Regions from separate parts of the Homo sapiens genome. Here region 1 is linked to region 2. A link means that fine-mapping ties the variant in region 2 to the expression of a gene that starts in the linked region. Tissue or cell type: unexposed skin. Region 2 holds a variant in brackets; the other region holds the start of a gene. All regions are shown on one strand. Distances are from middle to middle.

Evidence for each region. PIP is the estimated chance that this variant, and not a neighbour inherited with it, causes the effect.
Region 1: it holds the start of MYRFL, and the variant in region 2 is fine-mapped to the expression of MYRFL in unexposed skin (GTEx, PIP above 0.99).

Annotation. Positions count from the first base shown.
Region 1 is chr12:69,824,095-69,826,763 of GRCh38, reverse strand. It overlaps MYRFL (myelin regulatory factor like), which reads right to left and starts at 1,537. Exons shown (of 25, transcript NM_182530.3): 1 at 1,201-1,537. The coding sequence starts at 1,246.
Region 2 is chr12:69,971,426-69,974,282 of GRCh38, reverse strand. No RefSeq gene overlaps it. Among named protein-coding and RNA genes, the nearest start is that of MYRFL, 150 kb to the right of the region's middle. The variant G/A (reference allele first, on the strand shown) is at 1,269.

The sequences.
Region 1 (2,669 bases), 150 kb after region 2:
TGAAGTCTACCACCTTTTCCAACTATTCACAGATAATGTAAGAAAAACACTGAAGACAAATACTTTTATAATAATGATCAGATAATTGTAACAAGCTGTAGAGGGGACTTGTAGAAACTATATCCATAGAAACCTCCAAAAATAGTATAAACAAGGACAGTATAGGGATCCCATAGAAATAAAAGCTCTTTCAAAAAACAGAAGGTAGACCAAATTCGATATTCAGGTCTTCCCTAGCTCTAGAAGGAAATGGAGTAGATTTTTGCATGTATACAATAAATTGCTGGTTTCTCTAAAATAGATGCAATGGTAGATTGAAGCTTGCCACCTGCTGCTCAAACGAAAATTATATATGATATAAAATCAGGCAATAACAGTCTAGCAACACTAGTGTGCCTACCATGTGCCAAGCATGACCCAGGTAGACAATACCAACTTGGCCACTGTCAGAGACAGAACACTCAATGGGATGGATGGTAGGACAAGATAATGTGATAATTCTCTTGGTCTTATGTTTCTTCTTGCCATTTCTGGAAAAACCCAAGCCACAGAAACTACCCCATGGTGTTGATTCCTCCCAATAGTGACATAGAATCTCACTATTTCTTTGGTACGCCCCGTCACTCTTTAGTGTTCAGCATTGTTTACTATTCAGCCCATTCCATTCAACTTTTAAATATATATTATTTGTCAGGCACTTTACAAAGCACAAGAAATACCTAAAGCACTTTTCTCGATGTGCTGCTGACTGATCCCTAGATTCTGTAAATGAGCAGGTCTTCCCTCACTTCTTCTCATACTCCCTCATGCAAAATACCTTACCGTGTAAAAATGATGGTCACGTTTCCCTTCACATGGAATTTGAGCATGGCTATGTAGTTTTTTTAAACATAGGGCATGGGAAAAAATAAAATCTAGTACAGGACAGGGACAAGTAATAACAACATAAATATGCTGACCCCTTGATTCTAACAACCAAACTATAAGATGAAAATCCTGTTTTGTTTAAAATCTCTATCCATACCATTGAATTTTGCTCCCAATGTAGCAAATAAACCCCTACTTTTGATATTAGGAGAGTTACCTAAGTATGATAGCATTTCTTTCAAAACAAAGTTTAAGTGAATACGGAAAAGGTGAAACAGGGATAGTGAGCATTTCTCAGAAGCAGCAAATTCATGCTGGAAATTGGCCTCTTACCTTCAAAGAACTGCTGCAGGGCCTCATTTTCGCCTACCACATCCATGGTACTGTGATCCTAGTACTATTTCCTCATAAAACAACGGTTATCAGACCTCAGGAAATAAGTACTGTCCTTTTGATTCGAAGCCTACGAATGCTCTTGAAAAATCTTCATTTTCTTTTTATTGGAGTGAAGCATATCTTCAGCCATCAAATTGTGCCCAGAAAGATGGTTGAGTTTTCAAATGTGATTATAAAACTGGAAGGATATACAACCATACATTTAAAAAAAATTCATGAAGAGGGAAGAGGTAGCAAATTCATCTGTCTTAATATAAGGAACTGTTTCTACTCTGCTTTTCGTCTTTAAGGACCTTTGTCCTTAGTGACACATGCAATTACATAAATGGGCAATAAATACATAGTCTTATCTCATATTTGTCCTTTTACACCAATATATTTATATCTCCACCTTTATCAACTAGATCCACTTAGCTACCACCAATAAAACATACTTATTTTTTTAACCTAGAAAAAAGGGATAAATCAATATAATTACTTTTATAGATACCTATCATCACAGGTAATTTTAAAAGGCTTGTGATAATGAAAAGTTAGAATTTGTTAAGTATTTCCAAACTTACAGCAAAAACTTAAATTCCTTAATACATACCTGTTCCATTTCCTCTAGAGCTTATTTGCTTCCAAAGCATAAACCATAAAGTATGAGAAGTCTCTCTAACAAGCAACGAAAACTGCATTACCAATTTAATAATTCTTACAGTTGAGTCACTAGTAACTTGATTCACTCCTAAATATAAAACCATACCCGAATAAATGTTTTGTTTTCACTGCTTAGCTATAATTCATTTAACAATAGCCTAAGAAAATACAATTAGGAAATTAAATTATCCTTTCGCCCCTTCCTTTTCTTTTTTCCCAACTATTTGGAAAAAAAATAGTATCATAAAATATCCATATACTCTTCATCTACACTTACCAATTATTGACACTCTCTCATATATATATATATATACACATACATATATATACATATATATATACATATATACATATATATATGAGACAGAGTGGTAGCAGTGGATATGGATATGTGTGTGGATATGGATATGTGTGTGGAAGGATATGGATATATATATATCCATATATAGTTTGTTTATATATATATCCATATAGTTTTTATATATATAGTTTATTTCTAATTTTTATGGATACACAATAGTTGTACATATTTATGGGGTACATATATTTTGATACAAACATACAATGTGTAATGATCAAATCAGGGTAATTGGGGTATCCATCACCTCAAACATTTATCATTTATCATTTATGTTGGGAACATTCCAAATCCACTCCTTTATTGTGAAATATAAATTATTGTTAACTGTATTTACCCTATTGTGCTACCAAACACTAGATCATATTCCTTCTATATATTTTTGCACCCATTACCCAACCCCTCT
Region 2 (2,857 bases):
TTTCTCTCTGTGTTTATCCTTTAATTACACATCAGATGCCTTACCTGAAACTACAAGTACAAGAACAGGCTGCTCCAAACAAAAGCACAAAAGCTTAGAGCCGGAGAGTTCTCTGAAGACAAAGGTTTTCAAGTCTTGTTGAAATAGAGCCGCAAAATGAGCAGGAGGGGCAGCTGCTAACCAGTGCCCCAGCCATGGCCCAGGGTAACCAAATTCCTTACTGTTCTGGGGGACAGAAATGCCAATAACGCGAAGTTCAGCCAGGTAAACTATGCTGATTCTCAAACCAACAATCTCTGGGTGGGGTTGGAAACTCAGACCTGGGAAGAGCATCAGCAAGCCCTGGGGTTTAAGAGCACTCCTGACCTCCAGACCTACCTCTTTAGCCAGTCTAGGGCACTTAGGGCTCAGCTTAAGGTTCTTTATCTTTCGTTCCACACTCCCAGGATCCTCCTGGGACAAATGGGAAAAGAAGATAAAGTTTGATGGCTACTAGAGTCAATGGAGTTAAAGGCAATGCTGCCCTTGGAACTGTTGGAAATACCAAAGAACAATTGCAGATCAAGAGCAGCAGTGAGTGTGGAGACATACACTCACACTTACCATAATAGAATAGAAACTAGAGGGTTTGTGTTCACTTATCAGCTCCACTACTTCCCAACTTATAACATTTGCCTACTCACCAACTAGTAAATATCTGCTACATAGTGAAAGCTCCAAAACTGTTGGTTAATGAATGTTGAAATCACTTAAGCTTTTTGGGCTTCTCTGGCTCCATATTAAAAATAAGGAGATTGGCCAGGTGCAGTGGCTCATGCCTGCAATCCCAGCACTTTGGAAGGCCGAGGTGGGTGGATCACTGGAGCTCAGGAGTTTGAGACCAGTCTGGGCAACTCAGCGAAGCCCCGTCTCTACCAAAATTACAAAAATGAGCCAGCACACACCTGTGGTCCCAGCTACTAAGGAGGCTGAGATGGGAGAATCGCTGGAGCCTGGGAAGTCAAGGCTGCAGTGAGCCAAGGTCCCACCACTGCACTCTAGCCTGGGTGACAGAGTGAGATCCTCTCTCAAAAAATAAAAATAAGGAGATTGGACTATCCAATTGGTAATAAGGATAGGCACTGATACTTATTGAACACTTAATATATGTGGGGGACTGTTGTGAATTAATGAAATGTATTGTCACAAAAAACATGTTATCTCCTTTTAACATACAAGGAAATCAAAGCACAGAGAGGTTGGGTAACTAGCCCCACATCACACATTTG[G/A]TCAGGCAGAACCAGGATTCAAAACTCCAGAATCCATGTGTTTTCCCAGTATGTTTTTGTCAACTTCCAGCTTATGCTATTATAATGATTCCCACTTTGTTACCTGCTCATTATCAATAAGATGTTTAATCTCTTACTCTGACTCTATATATACTGCCTGTATTACTTCCCAGAGATTAGTCCTCTGTGTATCCATCAATACTTGAGCCTTCAAACATCGAAGAAAAGCTTGTATTTATAATTCAAATAAGAGAAACTAGACATTTTATATCTACTTGTGGATAGTATAAAGTGGAGAGGGATAGCAAGAATGTTGGATGACAATCACCACCTAAACATACTGACAAGCAACATAAAAGAACCCATCTAACAAGATATGGGGAATGGGAAAAAATGCAGTGGTGTGCTGATGAAGAAGCTCTCTGAAAACAAAAACCCTGATTTGGAGCATCTTCCTGAGAAGCGTTATGGGCCAAGATGTACGCAGAGGAGGCACAGTTGTGTGGGAGAAAAATCACAGGACGCGGATTCAGATGTCTGAGAGTAAGTCGTACCTGCTGTGCAACCCGAAGCAAGTCTGTTTACCTCATGGAACCTGCCTCTACTGCTGGAAGTGGGGATGTGTCAGGTACCTCACAGGCTTGTCATGAGGACTGAGTGAGATGACATAGGAAAACACTTGCCAAACTTGAAAGTCTTGCTCCTCAGGGTGTGTCTCATGCCAGCAGCATCAACAGCATCCAGGACTTTGTTGGAAAGGCACGTTCTCAGGCCCCACCCCAGACCCACTGAAATAGAGTCTGCATTTCCACAAGATCACCAGGTGATTGTGTGCACATTAACGTTTGAGAAGCCCTATTCTAAAGAACCAAACAAATGTAGTGTGTTGAAATTTTGGACTTTTTTCATATTCTGCCAAGGAAATACATCATGGCCAAATTTAAAGAAATGGGCCCCCAGCACTTTGGGAGGCCGAGGCGGGTGGATCACGAGGTCAGGAGATCGAGACCATCCTGGCTAACACGGTGAAACCCCGTCTCTACTAAAAATACAAAAAATTAGCTGGGCAAGGTGGTGGGCACCTGTAGTCCCAGCTACGTGGGAGGCTGAGGTAAGAGAATGGTGTGAACCCGGGAGGTGGAGCTTGCAGTGAGCCGAGATCGCACCACTGCACTCCAGCCTGGGCAACAGAGTGGGACTCCGTCTCAAAAAAAAAAAAGAAAAGAAAAGAAAAGAAAGAAATGGGCCCCTCTCAGAGTTTTCCATAATCCTCCTTCCCTGGGTCCTGATGAGCTCCCTAGGTTTTGGGGAGCAGATGCCCATCATGTGGCCAAGTGGGTTATTCCTGGAGAGCAGTTCCCTTTGCTCAGGAATGGACCACTTGAGAAAGTCATTGCCTAATAAAATCCCTTATTGTTTTCAAGGGAAGACAACCAATAAAATGCAAGCCTACTGATATGGTATGGCTGTGTCTCATCATGAATTGCAGTTTCCATAATCCCCACGGGTGGTGAGAGGGACTGGTGGGGGCTAATTGAATCATGGGGGTGGTTACCCTCATGCTGTTCTCGGGATAGTGCGTGAGTTCT